Homo sapiens: one gene and its partners. The protein of the gene in region 1 purifies or fractionates together with the protein of each later gene. This does not show direct contact. Each region holds a gene or a part of one and is shown in the gene's direction. Other genes may lie near its edges. The genes, in order: PPM1B, THUMPD3 and HEATR5A.

Region 1 (3,657 bases):
AAAACTGGTATGTAACTTATAAATATTTACATATATATATCGAGTGGTTCATCAGATTTTTTTAAATGGCGATATGTAATTTTATTGTAAAGTTCAATAATGATCATACCTGGAAAAAATCTCACAAAGATACGTAGACCCAAATGGAGGTAAATTGATCTAGACCAGTGTCTCTCAAAACTTTAAATCACCAGCATGCTTTTTTGATGATTCCATCTAAGATCTATTGAAAAAAATCCTTAGGTGTGGGAATAGGGCTATGGAGTCTGCATTTTGAGCAGATATAACAGCAAACATTTTATGGTGTTTATTGTGTTTTAAGTGCTGTTTTAAGCACTTTACATTGACTCATTCTTCACAGCAGCCCTATGAGGTATAGGTACAGGTGACTAAGAAATTTGCCCAAGGTCACCTAGTTAGAGTGTAGGGTTAGCATTGTATGTAGAAAACATACCAGAGAATTCTTTTGCATACTTTTGGGAACCATTACTCTAAGTCTAATCTAAGTCATTTGAAATTGGGAAAGCTTTATTCTATAAAATAGTAAAGTTGGGTAGGCGGGGAGAGGGTGATGCATAGTAGTACTTTCCAATTCTAAGGATTTTAAGTCTTTGTCAGTCAACACTGGGTAGCTACTTCATGGATTTTAAGTTCAGCAAAGTGAAGTCCATTTTTTAGCACCATGTTAAAGGTATGTTTTTAACAGAATCAAAGTAATGATAAGGTTTTCAGTTTTATAGATATATAGTAAAAGTGATAAAACCAAATGTGTGTAGAATGGAGATTTTTATGTTTTAATTGAATTTTGGGGTTGTCTTTAGGTTCACTGGGAGGAGAAATCTTGATTTCAATACTTGCTTTTGAAAGTCTTCTAAAGTATATTAGTATACCTTCCTACCTTGATTTATTGAACAAGATGACTCACTGTTTTGAATATTCTCATTGTCCAGTCTTCTGTAAACTTACATGTCGAACCCTAGACTCACCTTGTAAATTAAATCAGAATGAAATTATTAATGAAGTTTTATTTCTTGTTTTTTCCTTTCTCCTAGAACAGTGGTCTCAACGTGGCTGCACATACAAGTCACCAGAGAGGCTTTTAAAAGATGATATCTGTGTCCCATCCCTAGGGATTCTGATTTAATTGGTCTGATTATTCTTACGCGCTAGGGCTGAGAAACCACTGTTCTGTAGGATGTAGGGGAGGAAATTTCTTGGGCTTTTGTTGTTGCTCCCGTAAATTAGGATAATACTAAAAAAAATACTTGAGGTAGGAGTTACTAGACTATAGAGGGAATATTGTACATACATTTTCTGTCAAATTTAAACATTTAACACCTGCATTTTTTATTTCAGATTTATTGCTAAACATGGGTGCATTTTTGGATAAACCCAAAACTGAAAAACATAATGCTCATGGTGCTGGGAATGGTTTACGTTATGGCCTGAGCAGCATGCAAGGATGGAGAGTGGAAATGGAAGATGCACACACAGCTGTTGTAGGTATTCCTCACGGCTTGGAAGACTGGTCATTTTTTGCAGTTTATGATGGTCATGCTGGATCCCGAGTGGCAAATTACTGCTCAACACATTTATTAGAACACATCACTACTAACGAAGACTTTAGGGCAGCTGGAAAATCAGGATCTGCTCTTGAGCTTTCAGTGGAAAATGTTAAGAATGGTATCAGAACTGGATTTTTGAAAATTGATGAATACATGCGTAACTTTTCAGACCTCAGAAACGGGATGGACAGGAGTGGTTCAACTGCAGTGGGAGTTATGATTTCACCTAAGCATATCTACTTTATCAACTGTGGTGATTCACGTGCTGTTCTGTATAGGAATGGACAAGTCTGCTTTTCTACCCAGGATCACAAACCTTGCAATCCAAGGGAAAAGGAGCGAATCCAAAATGCAGGAGGCAGCGTGATGATACAACGTGTTAATGGTTCATTAGCAGTATCTCGTGCTCTGGGGGACTATGATTACAAGTGTGTTGATGGCAAGGGCCCAACAGAACAACTTGTTTCTCCAGAGCCTGAGGTTTATGAAATTTTAAGAGCAGAAGAGGATGAATTTATCATCTTGGCTTGTGATGGGATCTGGGATGTTATGAGTAATGAGGAGCTCTGTGAATATGTTAAATCTAGGCTTGAGGTATCTGATGACCTGGAAAATGTGTGCAATTGGGTAGTGGACACTTGTTTACACAAGGTATGTAAACTTTTTTGTCATTAAAATAACATGTTAATTTTGAAAAGTTACGGTAGGTAAAGTTAAGCTAACTTAAAATTTTAAAACTTTTAATATTTTCACAGAAGCTGTATATTTTGAAGTACTTTACCAGAAATGAAACCATTGTTTTCTTTGCCATCCTTGTTTGTCCCAGCCTTCTAATTTGAAAATTAAGCTTGATAAATTTGAGGCATTTGTTGTCATTTAAGTACTTCATAGCTTGTTGCTGTAGCAAAAGCATTTACACAGAGTGACTTTTTCTTGACATTGGCAGTAACCATCTTATGCCTGATTATGAAGCAGCTTGATAAAATATGTATATAGTAGAATTCTGTACTAGATATTACTAAAAGATCAAGAGCCATGTGAAATATTGGAAGATGTACTAGATGCCTAGCCTGTATAAAATTTAGTCCTGAGCCTCCTAGCAGTGAAGACAAAAACTGAAATAAAAATATGGGTTGTATATTTCTCATTGTCTTCTAAAAGCAGCTCTTATCTGGCAATACAATCTAAAAAGGATTTACATGTGGCTCTCTAAGTAATACATGACTTGGATAGTATCTTTTGTAGAAGATAAAATTCTTTTCATATAGATGTTTTTATTATTTCTGATTAAAAACCAAAGGCTTCTATAAAACATAATCTTGTGAAAAATTCCTGTGGAACACTAAAGTTTATTTAGATTTGTAATTTTGTATGAATCATTGCTTGATACAGTAATAGAAAAAAAGTCCAGAGTAATAGATAATTGGCAATCCTTTGAATATCTTTAAAATACTCAGTTGTTTCAAGTGGGTTTTTGACAGCATCTATATATAATTCAATTAAAATTTGAGTTATCTGGCCAGTGTCTGGAGTGTGTAAGTATTTGACTGAAAAGATACCAAGGTAAAACTGACCTTTAGTTACATGAAATAAATAAAGGGTTTGACTTATTTATTCTGTCTAGATTAGAACCACTGTATCTCCCTACTCCAAAATGTACTGTGGAAGGTATGGGCATAACCAGAAAGTTTTTCAGAAAGGATCTCTGGGTCTCTGGAAATGCCCAGATTTTGGTTAAATACCGATTTCTTTTTAATAGAATGGAAAGAGGCAGTTTTAAAAACAGAAGATTTAAAGGCCGTTCTTGTCAGTGGACAGCCTTTTTCTGAAAGGATTTTAATGATGGTACCTCTAGCTCCTCTGATTTTTATTTTTAACACACTGTATCTTTTTACTTCTGGATGAGTTAAGTAAAGAAGTATTGATGGTTGTCAGTGATCAAATAGTAAGTGGGTCTAAAATTATGTATTTGTCTTTGAACTCTAAATGAAGCAATTCTGACCTGTAGATTTTTGAGACAAGCATAGGCATATGTTTGTTGCCTGACTAGCTAATGAAAACAGCATTTTCCCCAATTATAAAAAAAAGGTAT
Region 2 (3,657 bases), on another chromosome or scaffold:
CTGCCTTGCAAATGAATACGTGGCTCACACCTGTAATTCCAGTACTTTGGGAGGCCTTGGCAGGCAGATCGCTTGAGCCCAAGAATTTGAGACCAGCCTGGGCAAAATAGTGAGACCCTGTCTCCACTAAAAATAAAATAAATATTTTAAAAAATAAAATGAATAGGTTAACCAGAACAGTGATGTCTAAAAGTTAGCAAGGTGATTCAGAGGAGTTTCTGGAGCCGTGCTGCATTGGTTTAAATCCCAGAGGAGGCTGGGTGTGGTGACACACACCTGTAATCCCAGCACTTTGGGAGGTCAAGATTGGAGGATTGTTTCAGGCCAGGAGTTCTAGACCAGCCTAGGCGACATAGGGAGACCCTGTCTCTACAAAAAATAAAAAAAAAATTAGCTGAGTATGATGACAGACACCTATAGTCCCAGGTACTTGGGAGGCTGAAGTAAGAGATTGCTTGAGCCCAGGAAGTCCAGGCCACAGTGATCTGTGATCATGCCACTGCACTCAATCCTGGGCGACAGAGTGAGACCCTGTCTCAAAAAGGGAATTCCTGAGGAGCTGTCTTTGTGCCTCAGTATCCTCATTTATAAAGGGAATAATACCTAGCTTAGGGGATGTGAATATGAGATGAGGCCATGTATGTAAAATGTGTAGAATAGTGCTTTGCATTAGGAAGTGCTGTATGAGTATCAGCTGTGCTTCTGCTGTGGTTAAGCTCAGGAAGTCTTTCAGTGAAAGATTGGGGAACATTTTGGTTTAGTTTAGTTCACTTTTGAGACAGGGTCTCGCTGTATCACCCAGACTGGAGTGCAGTGGTGCAATCATGGCTCACTAAAGCCTTGACCTCCCAGGCTCAGGCTGTCCTCCCACCTCAGCCTCCCGAGTAGCTGGGACTGTGGGCCTGTGCCACTGCACTCAGTGTAATAAGACTTTTTATTTGAGACTTTACCAATTTTTAAAACTTTTTTGTTGAGATACACTTTGCACCCCTTAAGTACACAAATCTTAAGTTTTCAGTAAGTTTTTACTTATATACACGATGTGTAAACAGCATCCAGATAGAGATACAAACTATTTCCAGTACCTCGGGCTCCCCTTGCCCTTTCCCAGTCAGTACCCACTCAAGGCAATCACTAATCTGACTGCTACCACCAAAAATTCGTTTTGCCAATTTTTGAACTTCATATAAATGAAATCATATAGTATATAGTTTTTTTCGTTCATTTTAATATCTATTATTTTCTTTTAATTCACTATGTTTATTGGCTACAACCAGATTTCACCCCAATTTTTATAACACAAACATATTTTGAAGGCTTAGAGGTTTTTTAATATGTATTTTTTAAATGTCTTAACTTTTTAGACAGTTCTGGGCTGTGGTGCGCTATGCCAATCAGGTGTCTGCACTAAGTTTGGCATCAATATGGTGACCTCCCAGGAGTAGGGGACCAACAGGTTGCCTAAGGAGGGGTGAACCGGCCCAGGTCAGAAAAGTCTTATTACTAAGCGCAGTTTGAACAATCCTAAAACTATTTTGTCTTGTTCCACTTTGCTATAGGTTCTTTTGAACATCCATGATAATGAAGTCATTGTGGGCATTGCATTGACTGAAGAGAGTCTCCACCGAAGAAATATAACACATTTTGGACCTACAACTCTTAGATCAACTCTTGCCTATGGGATGCTCAGGTAAGAAAATGAGTTTGCCATCCAGCTTAAAGTGGCACCTTGGTTTGAATGTTCCCTTCAAAATACTGATTTGTGTGTATGTGTGTTTGAGGTACTGTGTTGGAATAGAGTGGATAAAGAATAGAATGGAAAGCTAATGATCTATTTCTTTCCCTTCTATCCAATATTGACTCCTTGTGATCTGAAAATACTGCTTAATAGGTGGCTCAGTTTTCTTTATTTCTTTTTTTGAGACAAAGTCTCACTCTGTCGCCCAGACTGGACTGCAGTGGCGAGATCTCAGCTCACTGTAACCTCTGCCTCCCGGGTTCAAGCGATTCTCCTGTCTCAGCCGAATAGCTGGGATTACAGGTGCCTGCCACCACGCCCAGATAATTTTTGTATTTTTTTAATAGAGACGACATTTCACTATGTTGGCGAGGCTGGTCTCAAATACCTGACCTCAGGTGATCCACCCGCCTCGGCCTCCCAAAGTGCTGGGATTACAGGTGTAAGCCACCGCGCCCGGTTTTCTTGATTTTAAAATGAGAGTAATAGTTTTCACCTGCCTCTTGAATGAGGTTACCACATTTCTGTTTAGCAAGGATATGTGTGTTGGGAGATAAGAGTAAATTTTGCTGTTTCATTTCTGTGCAGTGAAAAAGATGAAAGCAGAGATTTTTATGTGTATAACGTGTAAATGAACAGAAAGAGCTTTTACTTATATTTTTAAGCTTTATACTCACAGCAACTCAGGAATCATCCTAGAATTTTTTGCTTTTCAGAGTACACGACCTATCTTTCCTTCTCCTTTGCCCTTCTCTCTTTTATTGGGTGCTTCTTTCCACCACTTGAAAATGTTTATTTTCTCTAAAGCTTCTGTTTTCCAGATGGCAAAATGGATTTGATGTGAGACTTAAAGGATTATTAGTGAGGATTAAATGCTGAAGCATATGCAAAATACCTATTATATACAGTGCCTGGTATGTCCTGGTAGTTAAGTCCAGTCATGCATCACTTAATGACAGGGATACATTCTGAAAAATGTGTCATCACGCAATTTCATCATTGTGCGAACCTCATGGAGTGTACCTACACAAATCTAGATGGTGTAGCCTACTACACACCTGGGCTATGTGGTATCTCCTATTGCTCCTAGGCTACAAACCTGTACAGCATGTTATTGTACTGAATATTGTAGTCAGTTGTAACGCAGTGGTATTTGTGTATCTAAACATAGAAAGGATAGGGCAAAATATGGTATTATAATTACTGCATTCATATATTTGGTCCACCATTGATTGGAAGATTGTCATGCAGTACACGACTGTATTCCTTCTCTTCCAATCTTTTATCTTCCTAACATATTAATTCAATGACGATAATAGAAAATTGGGCCCATTTGATAAAGGAAAATCTTCTAGTCTTCATTAATTTAACAAATATGCATTATCTACTGCCAGGCATATGGTAGAAACCAGGGATACAGAGAGGGTGTTATTTTGGGTGCAAATATTTAAAACCTAAGTAATCAAGTTTAGGATAAAAAAGTGATAATTGTGCCAGAGAGGGGTTTATTGGAAAGATAAAGAGAAATCTTGGGGATTCTACAGAAAAACTGAATGTTGGTTCTCAAGAAGGGTAGGAACCACATCTTGGAAAACCACCAGAAATGTAGGCAGCCATTTTTATCTCCCCTTAGAGCCTGTGGACTCTTGTCTCTTCTCATCTACATGCTTTCTCATCTAAATTTATGTATTTCCAATTCCAAACGACCAACCCACACTGCCTAGGGCTTTTAGCTCTTTGTTCCAAATTCCTGGAAGAGAGGATCTGATGGACATTGTTTTGGTCAGATATTCACCCCTGACCATCAGGAATGGCTTGGAGTACAGGGTGCTTACCCCCTCAAGAGGGTTGCCAAGGATTCTATTGCCATGTGTTGAGGAGTAGGAGCAAGGAGATAGAGCAGGACCAATGTTACAATA
Region 3 (3,657 bases), on another chromosome or scaffold:
TGAAATTCTGTCTCGAATAAAGAAAAAAAAATTTTGTAAGTATTGGACACTAATTGGGTAAAACTTTTTACCTGATTAAGAAAACATATTAATAATAACATATGAATACTTTTTTTCAGTGACATTACATAAAATACTGCTATATAGGATCATAAATCCCAAAATTCAAGTGTGAACTAAAATGGATCTCAGTAGATTAAAGCACAGTATTTGGGCTAGTTCTTTAAGATGTATTTTTATCTACTATTTGAATAACTACTGAATGTGTGAGCTTCTGATATGGTAGTTTTGTTTTCTGTATTACTTAGATAATTGATTTTCTTCTTGTCAGATGCTAACATCAGAGAAGTTGGCCTTGAGGGGGCATTGTTGATCTTACTAGACAAGGAGACAGATGAGAGATTATGCCATGATATCAAAGAGACTTTAAATTATATGCTTACATCTATGGCAGTGGAAAAACTCTCCCTGTGGTTAAAGCTTTGTAAAGATGTACTTGCTGCATCAGCTGGTAAGTATTGGACATTATCAGTTAAAATAATAAAATTGAAATTTGAAACTTTACATAAAATTGTTTACCACTGAGAATTCATCAGTCTTGTCTAACTAGCTGGATTCTGACTGTCTGATTGTTGCTTTTCTTCAAATGAAGATTGTATTTCTAGTGTTTTAGAATTCTCTGTAATTTGAACAATATAAATCCAATACTTAAGCCTGCTCTTTTTCCCTTTGGCTGTCTTAGATGACTTTCCTATATAAAACAAATTAAAAAGTAAAGTTATTGTTTATGCCCTAAAAGGTGTGACTTGATGTATATTGTTCCCATCATTTCTTTTCATACATACAACAAATATTTGAGACCAGGTGTGGTGGCTTACCCCTATAATCCCAGCACTTTGGGAGGCTGAGGCAGGCAGATTGCTCAAGTCCAGGAGTTTGAGACCAGCCTGGGCAACGTGGCAAAACACCATCTCTACAAAAAAAAATTTTTTTTTTAATTAGCTGGGCCTGGTGGCTCACACCTGTAGTCCCAGCTGCTCGGGAAGCTAAGATGGGAGGATTGCTTGAGCCCGAGAGGCAGAGGTTGCAGTGAGCCAAGATCACACCACTGCACTCCAGCCTGGGCAACAGAGTGAAACCCTGTCTCTACATACATACATACATACATACATACATACATACATACATATGTTCATACATACCCACCCCACCCCTCGCACCGTATGAAATTACTTAGTCACCATAAGAGAAAGTTATACAAAGTTATGACATTTTGAGCAAGCCAGTTTCACTACATACAATAATGTTAATTTCAAGTAGTATTAGAAAACTGTTATTACCCTAATGTCTTTAGTAATACAAGATAATTGTTCATGAGAAAGTATATTCAAATCTTTAAAATTTGTATCCTTGGAGTAAGAGAGAAAATAAATGAGAGGAAGAGAGAAGAGAAAAACCAGTTATTTTCCAAGAACTGTATATAATTTATCTGATTTAAGCCTTTAACCCATTCTATGCATAGACAATTTTATTCTGTTTTATAGAAGAGAAAATAGGCTTGGAGAGGTAACCTGCCTGAAGACATAGACAGATTCAGTCCTACGCCTACACAACTTTTAAAATCCACAAGCCTTCCACTGTACTTCAGTGCTCCCAACTCAGTTGCCCAAGCCTTAGAATTTAATGTAGCTCTCATGTCTGAATTGTGTGATAGGAGAAAAGTTAACACCAAATTCCTGGAATGTTTTGTATTCTCTGCTCTGACTATCTTGATTCTTATTGGTCCCTCTTCCAATGGTTTACACTGGCTGTTTCAACTATTACGCTTTACATATTTTATTTTTCTAATTTTCTCTTCTGTTCCCCACTACTCAAGAAATTGCAAGGACTTCTTTAAAAGAAAATGTCGCCTGAGCCCAGGTGTTCGAGGCTGCAGTGAGCCATGATTGTGTAACAGAGCAAGATCTTGTCTCAAAAAAAAAAAAAAAAAGAAAATACATGTGTGCATAGACTGATTACATTTTCCTGGTGTCTCAATTATCTTTTTTAAATTTTGCATTCATACTCCCTGAGCTTGCTCAATTTTATCTTGCCATTAATTCTTCATCTTCTGAGGTTTGGCTCCATACCTTCTCAGGAAAACACCTTCCAGGCTCTGTTAACTTGACCATAACTTTATTTGTGACATGTTTGGTATTCTAACGTGCAAAAAAATATTGACATACGGGATAATATAAGAAAAGCAGTTTGGTTTGTTTCATAGCATTAGTTCCATTTTCAGTTGTTAAACAGTTTGTAAGTGTAACAGTTAATAAGTAGAGGAGATAATTCACTACTCAGTGACCAGCTATCATTACACCTTTGATACTGTAATGGTAGCAATGAGTCTATCCTAAGAAAAATATTTTCAGACAATTTCAGTAGATTCAGGAACCTCCTGAAATCCATGCAAGGCTCCAGTGTTAAAACAGCCTTCCCAATGTATCCCACCCACACCCGAGAATTTTGAGTCTCCTTAAGTACATCCATCTACTTGCAGGGGATTGATAATTATTTCAGTATCTACTATTGTGTTTGTTTGTTTTTTTAAATATTTTTTATTGTGTTTGTTTTTTACTTTGAGTATAATTTAACAGCTTGGTCATTTTGACCTGGAACAGTTCTTAACAGCATCTCCTTTAGACAGCTGTTTAGTTGTATGTAGTTATTAGACCTAATTATTTGATGTTATTAAAAAGATGATTGATCAGTAGCAATTGATAGTTGAGCAATTCTAGTCTGAATTTGAAGTCATTTTTTTGTTCCTTTTGATATATATATATATATCTTTCAGTTGATTATAATTACATATGTTCTCCTTTAATAAAAGATTTTACAGCTGTAACTTGTGTGGATACAATGCAAGAAGAAGAAGGAGATAAAGGGGATGATGCCTCAGTCCTGACCACCAGACGTGATGAAAAATCCCATCCTTTTACCAATCCCCGATGGGCTACTAGAGTCTTTGCTGCTGAATGTGTCTGTAGGATAATTAACCAATGTGAGAATGCTAACAGTGCACATTTTGACATTGCTTTAGCACAAGAAATGAAAAAAAGAGATTCAAGAAGTAAGTGACATAGTGATGAAAACACCAAATGATATGTGTAAAAATGCTGTCTGCTTATGGTTTTAATATTTAAAATATTAAAATATTTTTTTAAAATGAAACTAGCCAGACACAGTGGCTCATACCTGTAATCCTAACACTTTGGGAGGCTGAGGCAGGAGGATCACTTGAGCCCAGGAGTTTGAAACCAGCCTGGGCAACAATGAAACATTGTCTCTATTAAAAAAATTTTTTTAATTAGCAAGGCATGGTGGCATGCACCTATAGTTCCAGCTACTGGGGAGGCTGAGGCAGGAATATCACTTGAGCCCAGGAGTTTGAGCTTGCAGTGAGCCGTGTTCACATCACTTCATGTTTAAATACATTTTTAATGGTTAAGCTTCTTATATTGGCATTCACTTTAATGAGCAGGTGCAATGCATTAAGTTTATAGAAAATAATTGGTTCTTGGGAAATAGTATGAACATTTACTAGTTCTCAAAAATTATTTCCTGGTTTGTAACTTGGGCCAGTTTTTGCTTACAGATTATTTTAGTATCATAGATATT

Evidence for each region.
Region 2: the proteins of PPM1B (region 1) and THUMPD3 purify together in Homo sapiens (co-immunoprecipitation; 3 studies listed by BioGRID and IntAct, with this or other methods). This does not show direct contact.
Region 3: the proteins of PPM1B (region 1) and HEATR5A purify together in Homo sapiens (co-immunoprecipitation; 3 studies listed by BioGRID and IntAct, with this or other methods). This does not show direct contact.

Annotation. Positions count from the first base shown.
Region 1 is NC_000002.12:44,199,830-44,203,486, forward strand, and holds part of PPM1B (protein phosphatase 1B), read left to right. Parts: intron 1-1,356; 5' UTR 1,357-1,370; coding exon 1,371-2,216; intron 2,217-3,657.
Region 2 is NC_000003.12:9,372,957-9,376,613, forward strand, and holds part of THUMPD3 (tRNA (guanine(6)-N(2))-methyltransferase THUMP3), read left to right. Parts: intron 1-1,559; coding exon 1,560-1,690; intron 1,691-3,657. UniProt on the Homo sapiens protein: Catalytic subunit of the THUMPD3-TRM112 methyltransferase complex, that specifically mediates the S-adenosyl-L-methionine-dependent N(2)-methylation of guanosine nucleotide at position 6 (m2G6) in tRNAs.
Region 3 is NC_000014.9:31,323,017-31,326,673, reverse strand, and holds part of HEATR5A (HEAT repeat-containing protein 5A), read left to right. Parts: intron 1-331; coding exon 332-511; intron 512-2,869; coding exon 2,870-3,109; intron 3,110-3,657.